Linked DNA regions of Homo sapiens: region 1 is linked to region 2. The links come from fine-mapping of genetic effects on gene expression. A gene starts in region 2. The other region holds a variant in brackets. All regions are shown on one strand. Distances are from middle to middle.

Evidence for each region. PIP is the estimated chance that this variant, and not a neighbour inherited with it, causes the effect.
Region 1: its variant is the best candidate, but not a certain one, in a credible set for the expression of TNFRSF4 in whole blood (INTERVAL, PIP 0.79).

The regions. Positions count from the first base shown.
Region 1 is chr1:1,247,279-1,256,412 of GRCh38, reverse strand. It overlaps UBE2J2 (ubiquitin conjugating enzyme E2 J2), which reads left to right. Exons shown (of 7, transcript NM_058167.3): 6 at 288-368; 7 at 926-2,501. The coding sequence ends at 1,210. It also overlaps a transcript of C1QTNF12 not described here. Among named protein-coding and RNA genes, the nearest start is that of C1QTNF12, 5.1 kb to the right of the region's middle. RefSeq lists enhancers at 4,980-5,259, 8,186-8,966, 8,967-9,134. The variant G/C (reference allele first, on the strand shown) is at 3,800.
Region 2 is chr1:1,209,919-1,219,052 of GRCh38, reverse strand. TNFRSF4 (TNF receptor superfamily member 4) reads left to right here and starts at 4,900. Exons shown (of 7, transcript NM_003327.4): 1 at 4,900-5,070; 2 at 5,268-5,390; 3 at 5,960-6,061; 4 at 6,349-6,415; 5 at 6,915-7,111; 6 at 7,221-7,349; 7 at 7,428-7,713. The coding sequence starts at 4,926. The coding sequence ends at 7,498. SDF4 (stromal cell derived factor 4) reads left to right here. Exons shown (of 7, transcript NM_016176.6): 5 at 126-284; 6 at 420-595; 7 at 1,365-2,122. The coding sequence ends at 1,541. RefSeq lists a silencer at 5,773-5,822.

The DNA of each region.
Region 1 (9,134 bases), 37 kb before region 2:
GGTACCAGTTGCACAGACGGCCCGGGCCTTGTCAGCGGGGAGCCCGGTGCTTTGGTGGCTTGTTTTTCCCTGTCTTTAATAGGAATCAAGTGTGATATCATGAATTGATGGGGGGAAGATTAAGAAGGCTTTGTAAGACTATAAGTTAGTTTGCTGTGAAGAGTGTGCTTATTAAATGCTTTCTGCAACACGAAGACTGCAGCCCTTGACTTTGAAATCATCTGTTTTTAGAATCTTGAAAGAATTGAAATTAGTTTTCTGGCTGATTCCCTTCCCTTCCTTCCTAGAAAAGACAACTGGCAGTGCAGAGTTTAGCATTTAATTTGAAAGATAAAGTCTTTTGTGAATTATTTCCTGAAGTCGTGGAGGTAAGAAAGACGGAAGTGGGTTTCGCCTTCCCCTGCGTTAAAACACTTGAGTTTCACCTCTTTCCAAAGAGTAAAATCTGTGTCCTGAAGCTGCAGACCTCCCCAGGGGATGGCTCCTCTCCCCCAGGAGCCCCGAGGCAGGGGAGGCAGAAAGCCTGGGCTCTGGGGGGTGGCCTGCGGACAGCTGTGCTGGTGGGCCGGGGGCTGGGCCTGTCCCACAGGGGCGTGGAGCTCGTGGTTCTGAGCAGCCAGCTGGGTGGTGTCTGGGGATAGCTGGGAGGCACAGCGGCTGCCATGTGGGACTGGGACTGGAGTGCTCCCTGGTCTTGGCCTCTGTGGCTCAGCCTTGCTCTGGTCTGCCTGAGTGCAGGGGCCAAGGGGCACAGGGCCAGTGAGGCCGGCCACGCTCGGGCCCTCACCTGTGAGATGGGGTCGGAATTTGACACAGCCTAGGGCTTGGTTCTTGGTGGTGGACCGTGGACTCCTGAGAACGGGAGTGCTGGTCCTGAAAGGCGCTGGTTGGAGACCAGCTGCTTTTCTCGCTGTTTTTCTCTTAGGAGATTAAACAAAAACAGAAAGCACAAGACGAACTCAGTAGCAGACCCCAGACTCTCCCCTTGCCAGACGTGGTTCCAGACGGGGAGACGCACCTCGTCCAGAACGGGATTCAGCTGCTCAACGGGCATGCGCCGGGGGCCGTCCCAAACCTCGCAGGGCTCCAGCAGGCCAACCGGCACCACGGACTCCTGGGTGGCGCCCTGGCGAACTTGTTTGTGATAGTTGGGTTTGCAGCCTTTGCTTACACGGTCAAGTACGTGCTGAGGAGCATCGCGCAGGAGTGAGGCCCAGGCGCCGAGACCCAAGGCGCCACTGAGGGCACCGCGCACCAGAGCGTGACCTCGGCAGGCTGGACACACTGCCCAGCACAGGCAGACCCACCAGGCTCCTAGGTTTAGCTTTTAAAAACCTGAAAGGGGAAGCAAAAACCAAAATGTGTGACTGGGCTTTGGAGGAGACTGGAGCCTCAGCCCTGTCCTGGCCACGGGCCGCTGGGGCTGGTGTGGGTGGGCCTTGTGTGCTGGATTTGTAGCTTATCTTCCGTGTTGTCTTTGGACCTGTTTTAGTAAACCCGTTTTTCATTTTATTAGATGTGGTCACTTAGAAATGCAAACTTGCTGCCGACCGCGGGCTGCTCCTGCGTTCTTGGAGCTCCTGGCGCGTTTCTCGGAGCTCCCGGCTCCTCAGCGGGTGGGAACCTCGGGGCCCAGGGGTGGAGCTGGCGTCCGCGGGTGCTGGTCTGGCCTGGCCGTGTGGTGATGAGGCTTAGCGGGGCCAGTGACGGCCGTGGCTCAGGATCCATAAGTCGGGGTTTGGTCTCAGCATTTACAAATGTGTTTACAGTCAGAATGAAACACATTCCTTCTAGAAAGTGCTTGGGGGTTTTTGCTGCCCTGGAAGCCAGGAGCCTGCTCACTCCAACCACAAGTCGCCCTTGACTGCGGCGGCCGCGAGCGGGGCGGGGGCTGCCGGTGCCCTCCGCAGGCCGGGCCTCCTGGGCGCCCCTCGGTGCTGCAGGCTGGGGGGCCTTGGGTACCTGCAGAGCCTTTTCTCTGAATTCCTTATGTCCGGTGGGCCAGAAGCCCGTCCTCCTATGCTGGTGGAAGGCGGAGGACCGGAGTCCCTGCAGAAGGCCCCGTGCACTCGGGGGCCTCCCTCACATCCCGTGCCCCCTGCGCTGGCCTTCACAGTAGGTAATGGCTCCGGCCCGGGTGTTCGCTGTCCACGGAACATGGCAGAGGGGCACCCCGGCCCGGAAAGACGCCAGAGCCAGCAGGGGCTGTTTCGGGCCGCGTGGCTCCCCGGGTCTCGGCCGTCTCCCCTCTTCTGCGTCTGTTCCGTGACTTCGCCTGGGTGGGATGTACCGCAGGTGCATCGCGTCGAGGTGGGGCACGGCCGCCGGCAAGAAACCCACCCTGTCCGGAGGCGGGCGTGAGACAAGCCCAGCCCGCACGCGCTCATCTTTCTTCGTTTTTTGATCAGTTTATTCAGAATTGCTCTATAATTTACCAATTGTATGTATTTAACCTATTCTTGTGGAAAAAAAAGGTCTTTCATTATATCTTTATTTCTGAATTTCATGCTGCTTGTGTCTGTGTGGGCCGGGATGTGTGTCCATCTCTGTGCTCAGGGCTGGGGTGGCCCGTGACCAGGGGGTCACACCTGCTGGCCTGGGGTGGTGTGGCAGCTGCAGGGCAGGTGGGTCCCCACAGGGAATCGCGTCGCTGGAGCCATGGTGTAGAGCCCTCTGCAGGGCTCTCTCCCCATCCCGTACTGGATGCCAGCCCTGCCCTGATCTCCGCTTCTGTGACCGCCAGCATCACTTCCAAAGCCCGGTGTCTCCCGAGGCTCATGGGAGGGGGAATGCTAACGAATAGAGTGTTTACTCAACACGCTACTGCCGGGTGCAGTGGCTGCCGCCTATAATCCCAGCACTTTGGGAGGCTGAGGGGTGGATCTCTTGAACCCAGCCTGGGCAATGTAGTGAGACCCCATCTCACAAAAAATACAAAACACTACCTGGTGTGGTGATGTGCACCTTTGGTCCCAGCTACTCAGGAGGCTGAGGTGGGAGGATTGCCTGAGCCCGGCAGGTGGAGGCTACAGTGAGCCATGATGGAGCCACCGCAATCCAGCCTGGGCAGCGAAGCCAGACCCTGTCTCAAATGTCGTCTAGATGTGAAATCTCAACTTTGTTTTTTTGTTTTTTGGAGACAAAGTCTTGCTCTGTTGTTGCCCAGTGTGGAGTGCAATGGTGCTATCATGGCTCCCTGTAACTGCAGGGTCCAGCCCTACTGGGCCTGTGGGTTCTTCTTGTGTACGGAGAGATGTGAGATCATAGAAATAAAGACACAAGACAGGGATAGAAGAAAAGACAGCTGGGCCCGGGGGACCACTACCACCTAGATGTGGAGGCCGGTAGTGGCCCCGAATGCCTGGCTGCGCTGTTATTTATTGGATACAAGGCAAGGGGGCAGGGTAAGGAGCGTGAGCCATCTCTAATGATAGGTAAGGTCACGTGTGTCTCGTGTCCACTGGACAGGGGGCCCTTCCCTGTTTGGCAGCCGAGGCGGAGAGAGAGAGAGGACAGCTTACACCATTCTTTCTTCTATGTATTTCAAAGACTTTTAGTACTTTCACTCATTGTGCTACTGCTATCTAGAAGGCGGAGCCCGGTGTACAGGGCGGACCACGAAAGCAGACCAGGAGTGTGACCGCTGAAGCACAGCATCACGGGGAGACGGGCCTCTGGATGGCTGCGGGTGGGCCTGACTGATGTCGCCTTGCACAAGAGATGGTGGAGCAGAGTCTTCTCTAACTCCCCCGGGGAAAAGGAGACTCCCTTTCCCCGTCTGCTAAGTAACTGGTGCCTT[G/C]CCAGGCGCTAGCGCTACCGCTAGACCAGGGACCCCTCTGGTGGCCCTGTCCGGGCGTGACAGAGGGCTCACACTCTTGTCTCCTGGTCACTTCTCACTATGTCCCCTCAGCTCCTATCTCTGTATGGCCTGGTTTTTCCTAGGTTATAGTTGTAGAACAGAGATTATTATAATATTGGAATGAAGAGTAATGCTAGAAACTAATGATTAAGAATATTCATATATCATCACATCTATAATCTATTTCTAGTGTAACTATTCTTATTGTGTATATTTTCTTTATTACACTGGAACAGCTCATGCCCTCGGTCTCTTGCCTCGGCACCTGGGTGGCTTGCCGCCCACATGTAACGGTGACCTCCTGGGCTCAAGGGATCCTCCAAACTCAGCCCCCTACATATCTGGGACCGCAAGTGTGCGCCACCATGCCTGGCTAATTTTTGTATTTTTTGTAGAGATGGAGTTTCGTCATGTTGCGCAGGCTGGTCTTGAACTCCTGAGCTCAAGGGATCCACCTGCCTCGGCCTCCCAAAGTGTTAGGATCACAGGCGTGAGCCACCGCGCCCGACTAAAATCTCAACTTTTTTTTTTTTTTTGAGACGGAGTCTTGCTCTGTCGCCCAGGCTGGAGTACAGTGGCGTGATCTCTGCTCACTGTGACCTCTGCCTCCTGGGTTCAAGTGATTCTCCTGCCTCAGCCTCCCAAGTAGCTGGGATTACAGGTGCCTGCCACCACACCCAGCTAATTTTAAGTAGAGACGGGGTTTCACCATATTGGCCAGGCTGGTCTGAAACTCCTGACCTCGTGATCTGCTTGCCTCAGCCTCCCAAAGTGCTGGGATTACAGGCGTGAGCCACCACGCCCAACTGAAATCTCAACTTTTAGCGATCATCGGTCAAGCAGTGAAGGTGGTGCCCGTGGCATGTTGTCCGCACTGGCCCAAAATAAAAAATGATGTTTGGGCCGGGCGTGGTGGCTCACTCCTGTAATCCCAGCGCTTTGGGAGGCTGAGGTGGGCAGATTACCTGAGGTCAGGAGTTCGAGACCAGCCTGGCCAACATGGTGAAACCCTGTCTCTACTGAAAATACAAAATTAGCCGGGCATGGTGGCATGTGCTTGTAATCCCAGCTACTCAGGAGGCTGAGGCAGGAGAATCACTCGAGTCCAGGAGGTGGAGGTTGCAGTGAGCCAAGATCGTGCCACTGCTCTCCAGCCTGGCTGACAGAGTGAGACTCTGTCTAAAAAAAAAAAAAAAATGATGTTTGGCCTGTTGGGCCGGGCACGTCTGACCCTCTGTCCCCGTCTCCCTTAGAGGAATCGTGGGCCCCTCTGTTCTTGTGTTGTCACCGGTGGAGGCCGTCCTTGACTTCCCCCTGGGAGCACGGTGTGTCCCCTCGCCATGCAGAGCACACTGTGAAGTCTTTTAATGAGGAGAGAAAAGCCCCTTAAAAGTTGATATTCTGCAGACAGGTGAGCACGTGGCCTCGTGGTCACAGGAAAGAAGAGGCGTTTCCTGTGTTCTGGCAACCTCGAGCTTCTCTGTGAGCGCATGCCCAGGCCTGCCTGAGTGCTGATGAACCAGCCGGCACAGCAGAGCACTCCGGGTCTGAGGGAGCTGCTCTCCCTGCAGCAGGCGGCTGGGCAGGGCACCGTGGTCCTTTGCCATTTTTCCAGGGCCGGGGGGTGTCAGGGTGTCTGCGTTGGGGGGTGCAGGGGGTGAGCAGAGCCAGCAGCTGCACCTGAGCCTCCCCTTGTGAGCAGCTCGTGGCTGTGGCCCAGGGTACCCTGGATCCTTGGTGGGTGACCCAGAGGGTGGGGTCCTCTTGGTCGTCTTCTAGAGGGAGCATGGGGGCTGAGTGTTCCTGCCTGGGTGCCAGGCTCAGCTCATTTTAAAGGTGCCTGGGGTTGGGAACACGAAGCCACATCCTTCCCAGTTAGGCCCAGCCTCCCAGGGTGAGGGCAGCAAGTCACCCAGGTGCCGAGGGAAGAGACCGAGGGCACAAGCTGTCCCAGTGTAACAAAATATATAAAATAAGAGTTATACTTGGTATAGACCATATGTGTCACTAATCATTAGTTTGTAGTAATTATTCTTTATTCCAATATTATAATAATCCTCGCTCTATAATCATAATCTAGGAAAAACCAGGCCATACCGAGATAGGAGCTGAGGGGACATGGTGAGAAGTGACCAGAAGACAAGAGTGCGAGCCTTCCGTTACGCCCGGACAGGGCCACCAGAGGGCTCCTTGGTCTAGCAGTAACGCCAGCGCCTGGGAAGGCACCCGTGACCTAAGCAGACCGTGGTCTAGCGGTAGCGTCAGTGTCAAGGGAAAACACCCGCTACTTAGCAGACTGGGAAGGGGAGTCTCCCTTTCCCCGGGGGAGTTTAGAGAAGACTCTACTCCTCCACCTCTTGTGGAGGGTCAGGCCCACCCACAGTTATCCGAAGGCCTAACCGTCTCCCTATGATGCTGTGCTTCAGCGGTCACACTCCTAGTCCGCCTTCACGTTCCATCCTGTACACCTGGCTTTGCCTTTTAGATAACAGTAGCAAAATTAGTGAAAGTACTAAAAGTCTCTGATAAGCAGAAATAATGGCGTAAGCTGTCTCTCTCTCTCCCTGGCCCCTGCCTTGGCTGCCAAACAGGGAAGGGCCCCCGTCCAGTGGACACGTGACCCACGTGACTTTACCTATCACTGGAGATGGCTCACGCTCCTTATCCTGCCCCTTTGTCTTGTATCCAATAAATAACAGCGCAGCCTGGCATTCGGGGCCACTACCGGTCTCCACATCTTGGTGGTAGTGGTCCCCCGGGCCCAGCTGTCTTTTTTATTTCTTTGTGTTGTATCTTTATTTCTACGATCTCTCATCTCCGCACACGGGGAGAAAAACCCACAAACCCTGTAGGGCTGCCCTCTACACCAGGGCTGCCCGTTTTCCTGCCTGTAGGGCAGAGGGGGAGGCCCAGCCTCCCTCGGTCTAGCCTCCCAGGGCTGCCCGTGTCCCGGCCTGTAGGGCGGAGTGGGAGGCCCAGCCTCCCTCGGTCCAGCCTCCCAGGGCTGCCCGTGTCCCGGCCTGTAGGGCGGAGTGGGAGGCCCAGCCTCCCTCGGTCCAGCCTCCCAGGGCTGCCCGTGTCCCGGCCTGTAGGGCGGAGTGGGAGGCCCAGCCTCCCTCGGTCCAGCCTCCCAGGGCTGCCCGTGTCCCGGCCTGTAGGGCGGAGTGGGAGGCCCAGCCTCCCTCGGTCCAGCCTCCCAGGGCTGCCCGTGTCCCGGCCTGTAGGGCGGAGTGGGAGGCCCAGCCTCCCTCGGTCCAGCCTCCCAGGGCTGCCCGTGTCCCGGCCTGTAGGGCGGAGTGGGAGGCCCAGCCTCCCTCGGTCCAGCCTCCCAGGGCTGCCCGTGTCCCGGCCTGTAGGGCGGAGTGGGAGGCCCAGCCTCCCTCGGTCCAGCCTCCCAGGGCTGCCCGTGTCCCGGCCTGTAGGGCGGAGTGGGAGGCCCAGCCTCCCTCGGTCCAGCCTCCCAGGGCTGCCCGTGTCCCGGCCTGTAGGGCGGAGTGGGAGGCCCAGCCTCCCTCGCTCCAGCCTCCCAGGGCTGCCCGTGTCCCGGCCTGTAGGGCGGAGTGGGAGGCCCAGCCTCCCTCGCTCCAGCCTCCCAGGGCTGCCCGTGTCCCGGCCTGTAGGGCGGAGTGGGAGGCCCAGCCTCCCTCGCTCCAGCCTCCCAGGGCTGCCCGTTTTCCTGCCTGTAGGGTAGAGTGGGAAGTCCAGCCTCCCTCGGTCCAGCCTCCCAGGGCTGCCCGTTTTCCTGCCTGTAGGGCAGAGTGGGAGGCCCAGCCTCCCTCGGTCTAGCCTCCCAGGGCTGCCCGTGTCCCGGCCTGTAGGGCGGAGTGGGAGGCCCAGCCTCCCTTGCTCCAGCCTCCCAGGGCTGCCTGTGTCCCGGCCTGTAGGGCAGAGTGGGAGGCCCAGCCTCCCTCGGTCCAGCCTCCCAGGGCTGCCTGTTTTCCTGCCTGTAGGGTAGATTGGGAAGTCCAGCCTCCCTTGGTCCAGCCTCCCAGGGCTGCCCGTTTTCCTGCCTGTAGGGCAGAGTGGGAGGCCCAGCCTCCCTCGGTCTAGCCTCCCAGGGCTGCCTGTGTCCCGGCCTATAGGGCAGAGTGGGAGGCCCAGCCTCCCTCGGTCCAGCCTCCCAGGGCTGCCTGTTTTCCTGCCTGTAGGGTAGAGTGGGAAGTCCAGCCTCCCTTGGTCCAGCCTCCCAGGGCTGCCCGTTTTCCTGCCTGTAGGGCAGAGGGGGAGGCCCAGCCTCCCTCGGTACAGCCTCCCAGGGCTGCCTGTGTCCCGGCCTGTAGGGTAGATGGGAGGCCCAGCCTCCCTCGGTCTAGCCTCCCAGGGCTGCCCGTGTCCTGGCCTGTAGGGTGGAGTGGGAGGCCCAGCCTCCCTCGGTCCAGCCTCCCAGGGCTGCCCATTTTCCTGCGTGTAGGCCTGAGTGGGAAGTCCAGCCTCCCTCAGTCCAGCCTCCCAGGGCTGCCCACTTTCCTGCCTGTAGGTCAGAGTTGGAGATCCAGCCTGTTCTGTCTAGAGTCACAGGGGAGCTCATTGCCAGTGGGTGACAGAGAAAATTTGGATGCCCTGCCTGTGAGGAGGGGTCTGGTAGCCCTGGGCGGGGGGTCTCCTTGGCCAGGGCACCTGCCCACCCCTCCCTTTGCCCCAAGCCTGGATTGAGGGGTGTTGGGGCTGCCTTTCCCGACCCATGCTAGATGCAGGCCACATCCAGGGCTCACCTGCGGGGGTCCAGCAGGGCTGGTACTGTGTGGGCGCTGTGCCGTGTCCCCAGGGTCCTCCACCACCTTCACGAGCGGACACGGGGCCGGGAGGCTTCCACAGTGCTCTCTGGAGATGCCAGTCAGTGCCTGAGAGCCCGGAGGGCGAGGGGGCAGCCGGGGTCCCTGGTGGGTTCCCAAGCGTCATCCCCATCCCAGCCTGGTCTCCCGTGGCTCTGCCTGTGGATGTGGCCTGGGGCTGGGGTTGACGCTGGGGTCTCGGCGTGGCTACCTTCGTGTCTGGCAAGAGGGGAGGGTCTGGAGTGTTCCGAGCTGTCCATCAGGGCCGGCATGTTGACCTTGGGCCACTGTTAGCCTCGGCCAGGACCAGCGGCTGGAGGGTCTTCCAGCCCCACCTGGCCACCCCATTCCTCCAGCCACTGAGCCCAAGGGGCCTGTCGCCATGATCTGGCCTCACCTTTCCCCCGAGTGGGGCCCCAGCGAGGCCGGCCAGCACCCCCAGGACCCTGGGCCGGGGCCGTGAGTCAGGGCGGGGCACCCGGGGGAGCCTGGGTGAGGAGGTC
Region 2 (9,134 bases):
GAGGGTGGGGCCCCGGTCTCGCGGGTGGCTGTGTCCCTCGAGTTCAGGCAGCACCTCTCGGAACTTTCTGGATTTGCGTGCTGGCGTCTGTCGGCCTCGATACCCACAGGCTGCGCCCCTCTCAGCACAGGAAGTCCTGGAGAACCTGAAGGACCGCTGGTACCAGGCGGACAGCCCCCCTGCAGACCTGCTGCTGACGGAGGAGGAGTTCCTGTCGTTCCTCCACCCCGAGCACAGCCGGGGAATGCTCAGGTTCATGGTGAAGGAGATCGTCCGGGACCTGGGTGAGGCTGGGTCCAGCCTGGCCGGCACGCCAGGACCCAGGACCGACTGGCAGGGGCCGGGCATCGTCGGGAGGTCGGGGCAGGTCCTGCGGGAGCCCCAGCCTGGGTGTGGGCTGACCCATTCCCGTCTCGCAGACCAGGACGGTGACAAGCAGCTCTCTGTGCCCGAGTTCATCTCCCTGCCCGTGGGCACCGTGGAGAACCAGCAGGGCCAGGACATTGACGACAACTGGGTGAAAGACAGAAAAAAGGAGTTTGAGGAGCTCATTGACTCCAACCACGACGGCATCGTGACCGCCGAGGAGCTGGAGGTGAGCCCTGGCGCAGCCGTGTCCCGGAGCCGGCCCTGCGAGGTGCTGTGGCGGGAGGGGCTGGTGGATCTGGGCCTGAGGCAGGAAGCTGTGCTGGTGTCTGGCCTGAGACTCCATCTGGGCTGGTCACTGGGGCGTTTGCTCAGCGGTGTCCACCAGGCTGCATGGCCGTTGTTGGCGTTTAGGTTCAGACGGATCAGAGACAGGCGAGCCTGGCCGGGCTCCATCCTCAGCCCCTTGCGGAGGCGTCAGGGTTCTCACAGCCCCTTTTTAACGGGACCACAAGGGGAAGCTCATGCTGGGCCCAGCATGGAGGCAGGTCCAAGGCCCAGCAGGTGCAGGTGGGCGGGGCGGCCTGTGCCACATGGCTGGAATTTACCACCTTCCTCTGAAGCGTTTTCACTGGTATCATGTGTAGGCTTGTTTTTCTCCCACTGCTGAGTGAGTCATCTTGTTTTTATGTAGAATCCTGTGATTCCTGGCGACAGCCAGTGGGCCCGGCCCAGGTTAGGGATCCTTCAGAACTGGGGTCCAGGCCTGTGTAGCCCCTGTGCCCCGTTACCCCTGCTGGCCCCGGGCAGGCCTTCCGGGGCCCCCGGCTTCTCCCTGCCCTGTGTTTTCATTTGTGCCGCCTCCCTTCGGGAACCTTCCAGAACGTGCCCACACTCCCGCTGCAGCCAATAGGCACCTTAAATAGCCACTTCGTGCGGCTGGCCGCGGAGCTCGGAGGGGGAAAGGCGACGCTGACCTGTGCCCCGCTCGCCCGCAGAGCTACATGGACCCCATGAACGAGTACAACGCGCTGAACGAGGCCAAGCAGATGATCGCCGTCGCCGACGAGAACCAGAACCACCACCTGGAGCCCGAGGAGGTGCTCAAGTACAGCGAGTTCTTCACGGGCAGCAAGCTGGTGGACTACGCGCGCAGCGTGCACGAGGAGTTTTGAGCGCCCGGCCGCGCCCCGCGCCGCCCCCCACGCACCACCGGGGCGGCCTCGCGGGTGACTCCGGGCTCCGTGGCTGTCCCGGACCCCACCTCTTCCCTGCCGCCCGCCACCGGCCGACCGACCGCGGCTGCCCCAGTTGATGAGCGGCGTGTCCCCTCTGCAGCGCGCACCCCGGCGGGGCTTTGGCTGTGACGCGGTCGGGGCGCGGGGCTGGGCTGTGGCCCCGCGGCGCCGCCTCCTCCCTGGTCCCTCGAAATCGTGGCATCTCACTTCTGAGAACGAAATCTCGCTTCAGTCACTCTGCCGAAGGCGCTGACGGCATCGCGGCCGGAACCTCTGGGCCCGGCCCCTCCCAGGGCCGCCGCTCCGTGGGAAAAAACAGCTCCTCCATTTCCTTGAAAACTGAACGATTATTAAAAATAGATTAAACTTCGCTGGAAATGAGTAGCCAGGAAGTTCAGGGGAGGGTGCCGGGTCCTTCCCGGGCCTGGCGTGTCGGAGCCACCCAGGTCCCGCAGCTGCCGCTGAGAAAATGCAAATATTTGTTGTGACAAGAATCACATACATTTACTTTAAATATAGTTGCCTTTTTTGGTCAGCTTCATTCTTTGGGCGTGAAACAAAACACAACAGCAGCGTGCTAGGTTTGTGGTTACAGTTTCCACTGGAGCGCTGGAGGCTGGTGCTGGGTCACGTGGAGGGTTGGAGGTCATGGCCGGTTCGAGGTGATTCTCCTGGCAGGTGGCAACGGGCAGGGGCTCTGGGAGGACGGAGGGCAGCGCTGCGTTTGTGAGTAGGGGTCAGGGGGCAGCAGACGTGCCCACTGAGTTTGGGGTTTGGACATTTAAGGCAGGAGACAGAGCCGCCTGGGGGTTTTGGGTGGAGGATGGCAAGGTCTTTGGGTGCAGTGGGGCAGGCCTAGCCCCAGATGGGGCAGAGAATGGGGTGTGTTAGGACGGCTGGTGGGGGTCCTGCTCTGTGGCGTGTGGGGGCCCAGGCTGTGTCCTGGCTCTCCCAGTGGGAGCTCAGGGAAGCCGGGAGTGTGTCCTCTTCAGTCTGCCCTGTGGTGCCCATGTGACCGGCCTCTGCCCTGAGCCCACCTGCCCAGGGGCCCCTGTGGGGCCGAGAGGGCGGGTTGGCACCTGGGCTGGTTCCCAGGCAAACGAGATTCACAGAGCCACGGCCAGCGCAGGTGGTGGGAGGATGGTCCCACGCCCTGCTCTAAGGGGCTGTAATTCCCTGGAGCCAACCTTCGGTGGCCTGGACTCTGTCTTTCCCCATCCGTGGCCCCAGGCCACAGCCAGGGACCATCATAGCTGCAGCAGCATTCGACGCCCTGTGCTGAGGGCCGTGCACCCAGAGGTGGGAGGTGTGAGCTGAGGCCATGCTGTGCTGGACATGAAGGCGGGGGGACAGCTGGGTATGTGGTGGCACCTGGCCCTTCAGAGGCCCCAGCCAGCTCCAGTCTGGTACTGGAGGAGCAGTGGCCACTCATGGGCTGCCCTGTGCCGCCCGCGACACTACTGTGTGGAGCGGGGAGCCCAGCTCCTGGGGATGTGGTTCGAGCTGCAGGCTGCCTTACAGACCTTGGGGGTCCTGAGCTCTGGGTCAGTGTCCAGCCTCCTGTGGCCACGCCACACCCGGTTCCATGGACACAGCAGGGCTTTCTTGGACCTGTGACCTTAAGCCCAGGACAAGGAGACCTGAGCTTCCTGGGCAGCTTCAAGCAGGAGGGGCCGTGCCCCATCCTGGGGCCATTGCAGTTGCCAGCAATATGCTGGGGGTGCCCTCTCCATGGTGCACGGGCCCCACTCACTGCACCTGTGGGCAGATGTGGCCACTTAGGCCCCAGGAGAGCAGTGTTGCCCACCAAGACCCCCAGTTCACCTGAACCTCCAAGGAACCAATTGCAAATGTAAGCTTTTTCTCACTGTCAGTGGGAAACCCTTGTGAACGCTGGGTGGAACCTTCCACAAAATGCCAGAACTTTCCTCCTCTGCCCACCTGGGTTGGGGTGTGCACATGCAGGTACACACACTGTCTGGGATGCTCTGAGCCCTTCCAGGGTCCTCTCTACTTGTGGGGACGTGGGGAGGGTGACCAACTTAGGGACCCTCAGTCCGAGGGCGGGTGGCCTCTCCCTCCACTCCCTCCCTCTCCAGGGCCAGCGGGCTCCACGGCTGGGAATTTCCCCACGGGTGGGCCGAGGACAGGCAGCTGTTTCCTGTGCTCCTGGGAGGAGGGGATTTCCAGCCCCTTCCCTGCTGCTCTGTTCCTAGAGGCCCCTCTCCACTTGCAACTTCAAAAATGAACTTTTGGATAATCACAGGCTGGTCACAGTTATTTGAAAGGTGCAGAAAGGGCCCAGGGAGCCCCCAGCCCCGCACCTGCTCCCCAGCTCTCCGGGCAGTTCGCATCCTCTGGGCAAACCTGGAACCTGAGAACTGTTTGCATAGAAGGTGGAAACCTGCCTGCGTGCCCGTGTGCGCCAGGCCATCCAGGACCCACCCTCACCACCTCCTCAGAGGCCTGTCTCCAAACACTGCCACATGGGGGTTAGGGCTTCCACGCAGGAATTTAAGGGGCACAGTTCAGCCATAGACACCTGCCGTGCTCAGGCACACTCAGCGTGGGCTGTGGTCACGGGTGTCTTTTTTTTTTTTTTTGAGATGAGTCTCGCCCTGTCGCCCAGGCTGGAGTGCAGTGGCGCCACCTCTGCTTTGCAACTTCTGTCTCCTGGGTTCGAGTGATTCTGCTACCTCAGCCTCCTGACTAGCTGGGATTACCGGCGCCCGCCACCACGCCCGAATAATTTTTGTAGTTTTAGTAGAGACGGGATTTCGCCATGTTAGCCAGACTGGTCTTGAACTCCTGACCTCAGGTGATCCACCCGCCTTGGCCTCCCAAAGTGCTGGGATTACAGGCGGGAGCCACCGTGCCTGGCCATGGGTGTCTGTCTTACCATGGCTGTGGTCACTGCTGCTCAGAGCTAGTCTTGGGCATACAAGGGGGACCATGCTTCAGCAGTGCCACAGCCCTGAAGGTCCAGACTGAGGAGTTGCCTCTCCTGACTCAGTGCTGCCTCAGTTTACCCACGTGCTCCATGGACCTTTTTGCTGAGGGTCGAGCCGCAGGCCAGGCCCTACTGTGCCCTGGGGTCTGAACACGGTGGTCTTGGGCAGAAGAGGTCAGAAGGCAGAATAAGCCAATGCTGGGGGTGCCCAGACCCCGCCTTTGTGCCCAGCCCACAGCCAGGGTCCCCGGCCTGCCACCTTCCTCCTCCCGCCTCCTCTGCCCTCCTCCCCTCTCCCCTCCCCTCCTCCACAGTCCTTATAGCCACACCCCGCAAGGAAAACCCAGACTCTGGCGACAGCAGAGACGAGGATGTGCGTGGGGGCTCGGCGGCTGGGCCGCGGGCCGTGTGCGGCTCTGCTCCTCCTGGGCCTGGGGCTGAGCACCGTGACGGGGCTCCACTGTGTCGGGGACACCTACCCCAGCAACGACCGGTGCTGCCACGAGTGCAGGCCAGGTGAGGCCTCAGGAGGGGTCGCCACGCACGGGCACTCCAGGGACTGGGGGCTGGGGCAGGGATGGGCCAGCCAGGAGGCTGGTCCTGGGGAGGGGGCGGGTGAGGGGCCGGCCAAGCCTGGCAGAGGAGCCGCCTGGGGGGGTCCACGGGCGCAAGCCTGGGGCCTGACCGCTGCCTGACGCCGGCCTCTGCTGCAGGCAACGGGATGGTGAGCCGCTGCAGCCGCTCCCAGAACACGGTGTGCCGTCCGTGCGGGCCGGGCTTCTACAACGACGTGGTCAGCTCCAAGCCGTGCAAGCCCTGCACGTGGTGTAACCTCAGTGAGCTCCCACCTGGCCCCACAGCCCCACCCAGCACAGGGGGCGGCAGCCTGGCACCCACATTCCCACGCAGCAGCATGGGGCTCCCACAGCCGCAGAAACGAACCTCAAACCACAGCGGGGTCTGCTCCGCCACAGGGGTCCTTCGAGGAGCTGAGGCGTCTCCCAGGGGCACCCCCTCTCCCTCCGGGGGCCCAGACTCGGCCCAGGCCACGTGGAGTCGGGGAGACCACGCTGGCCATGTGGCCTGGCCTTGCTGGCCTGAGCAGTGAGGCTGGGGGGTTGGGCCATGGAGACCCTGCCGCAGGCGGGGCTGGCGGCTGGAGGCGGTGGAGGGGTAGGGAAGGGTGGCTGGGGCTGCCACGGAACCAGCCCCAGGTTGTGGCCAGGAAGGGAGGGCCCAGGAGCCTCGGGGGCTGCAGGGGCTCCAAGTCTCAGGGGAGGCCGCAGACCCCTGCCCACGGCCCTCTGTGTGGTGGGGAGGCCAACCTGTCCTCCAGTGCCCACGCTTCCTGAGGACCCTGTCCACAGCCCCCACCTGACCACCCCCCCATCCGGCCCCTGCTCAGGAAGTGGGAGTGAGCGGAAGCAGCTGTGCACGGCCACACAGGACACAGTCTGCCGCTGCCGGGCGGGCACCCAGCCCCTGGACAGCTACAAGCCTGGAGTTGGTGAGCTCGGTGGCTGCGGCCGGCGGTTGGGGGTGTGCATAGCGGCTGTCTGTGACGCAGATGGGCCGTGGGCCGCAGGGACCTGGCCCCACCGGTGCCTCCTCTGGCATCCTCAAGACCGAGCTCCCGGGTCAGGGCCCACGGGTGGGATGTGGGCAGGGAGGGCTTCCAGAGGCCAAACCCACCACCCAGCCATGGGGGGCAAGTGCCTGCCCCACAGGCTCTGCCCCATGTCCCCAGCACCCGGGGCCTGTGGGCAGCCCCTGACCACCCTATCTTTGTTGCAGACTGTGCCCCCTGCCCTCCAGGGCACTTCTCCCCAGGCGACAACCAGGCCTGCAAGCCCTGGACCAAGTGAGGGGCCTGGCCAGGGGCTGGGAGGGGCTGGGGGGGGGTTGGGGTGGTTAGGAGGGCGGAGGAGCTGGGGAGCTGGGAGGGGCTGGGGGGGCAGGTGGGGTGGGGGCAGTTTTGGGGGAAGGGGAGGTGCTGGTGGCCCTGGGGGCCTGGCTATGTGGCTGGACCTGGTTGGGGAGCAGGAAGCTGCTGCCTGGGGGCAGCCTTTCCCTGTGGGTGGAGCTGGGTGTGTGGGACCCTCACCCTCCGCAGCTGGGAGGCCCTGGGGGCACAGGACAGGGAGGTGCTGGTGGGGGGTGTAGATGTGGGAGAAGGGTGTGTGGCCTTGGAGGCCCCTGTGGGGGGCACGTGGGGCTGGGCAGCGTCCTTGGCTGTCACTGGCCTGGTGTCTGTGGTAGATGCTGCCTGTGGCTGGCCAGCGTGGACCCTGTTATCCCCACCGCATCTCCCGGGTCCCAGGGGGTTTCTGGCCTGAGCAACACCTCCTGTTCCCCAACAGCTGCACCTTGGCTGGGAAGCACACCCTGCAGCCGGCCAGCAATAGCTCGGACGCAATCTGTGAGGACAGGGACCCCCCAGCCACGCAGCCCCAGGAGACCCAGGGCCCCCCGGCCAGGCCCATCACTGTCCAGCCCACTGAAGCCTGGCCCAGAACCTCACAGGGACCCTCCACCCGGCCCGTGGAGGTCCCCGGGGGTAAGGGCGCCTGGCCCAGCCCAGCGGGGCCCCCAACCCGAATAGGAGAAGGGGAGGGCGGCATGGGGGCCCCTCCTGTGGACCCCACCCAGCAGACCCCTTCCTGCAGGCCGTGCGGTTGCCGCCATCCTGGGCCTGGGCCTGGTGCTGGGGCTGCTGGGCCCCCTGGCCATCCTGCTGGCCCTGTACCTGCTCCGGAGGGACCAGAGGCTGCCCCCCGATGCCCACAAGCCCCCTGGTGAGTGCCTCATGGCCCTGCCGCACTGCTCCTGGCGGGTGAGGCCCACCCACCAATCTCTCCTTTTTTCCTCCCCAGGGGGAGGCAGTTTCCGGACCCCCATCCAAGAGGAGCAGGCCGACGCCCACTCCACCCTGGCCAAGATCTGACCTGGGCCCACCAAGGTGGACGCTGGGCCCCGCCAGGCTGGAGCCCGGAGGGTCTGCTGGGCGAGCAGGGCAGGTGCAGGCCGCCTGCCCCGCCACGCTCCTGGGCCAACTCTGCACCGTTCTAGGTGCCGATGGCTGCCTCCGGCTCTCTGCTTACGTATGCCATGCATACCTCCTGCCCCGCGGGACCACAATAAAAACCTTGGCAGACGGGAGTCTCCGACCGGCACTGTGGGCTGCACACCTGTGGCATGGAGGCTTGGGCCGTGCCCGCCTCTGACTGGAGAGGGGTCTTGGGAGGCTTGGGCCGTGCCCGCCTCTGGCTGGACAGGGGTCTTGGGAGGCTTGGGCCGTGCCCGCCTCTGGCTGGAGAGGGGTCTTGGGAGACTTGGGCCGTGCCAACCTGTGGCTGGAAAGGGGTCTTGGGAGACTTGGGCCGTGCCAACCTGTGGCTGGAGAGGGGTCTTGGGAGACTTGGGCTGTGCCAACCTGTGGCTGGAGAGGGGTCTTGGGCCAGGGTGGAGGTGAGGGTAGCGGGGTCAAGTGGGACCCTGGAGGTTGGTCCCTGGGTGCGAGTTCCAGATTGAGTGGGGAGCGGGGGGAGAGACTGGGAAAGCTCAGGCCCAAGGCTGCCTGGGGTGGAGGTTCCTGGCCAGGCGCTGACAAGGGCAGCTGGCCCCTGAGCCCCGGGTTGCCCAAGGAGCTTGGGAGTGGCTGACCCCCGGGGCTCTGTGTCCTTGGAGGAGGAGTGTAGAGACCTGCCCCTCTTCCCCTCCACACCTACGCCCACCCCTTGCTGCACCTGGAAGGGGGTCCCAGGGCCCCTGAGCACCCCGAGGAGTCCCTGCAAAGGGCCCACACGGCCCCTATGTCCCTGCCATAGGTGTCCAGGGGGACAGTCACCTTGGAAACCACAGTTTCTGCTTGAGCCAACTTTCTGTCCACCCTGGGCCCCGGCCGTCCCACTCCTGCGCACTTAAGAGTCCTGGGATCTGAATGAGAATGACCACAGCGACTTCATGTAACGTGGCCCCACAGTGGAGAAACCCAGGCATCCGCCAGCAGCGTGGATGCGCGAGTGCTGGCGTGTTCAGATGAGCTCCCAGCTCCTCGGCCCACACCACAGGTGTCCACAGACGCTCCCAAGGCCCTGGGGCCGTCCCCGGCCGTGCGGGAATCTTCTCAAGCTGGTGTCTGGGAGTGGGGTATCCTTCGAGCAGCACAGAGCCTGCTCCCGAGCGCCAGTCACGCCCGAGGCCACAGCTCGGGAACAAGGCGGGAGCAGCCCTGCAGGCTTCCCGCAGGGAAGACACCCCGGGCGTCTAAGCGACATCTGTGTCCCTCGGGAGGCGGAGGTGCCTGTTCGCCTCCATGGTGTCAGGGGCTGAAGAGAAACACTCCCGAGGGCTAAGACGTCTCACTGCACTTGTTTTTTCTTTCTTTTTTTTTTTTTGCCGGAGTCTTGCTGTGTCACCCAGGCTGGAGTGCAGTGGTGTGATCTCAGCTCACCAACCTCTGCCTCCCGGGTTCACGCCATTCTCCTGCCTCAGCCTCCCAAGTAGCTGGGACTACAGGCGCCCAGCACCACACCCGGCTAATTTTTGTATTTTATTAGAGACAGGGTTTCACCATGTTG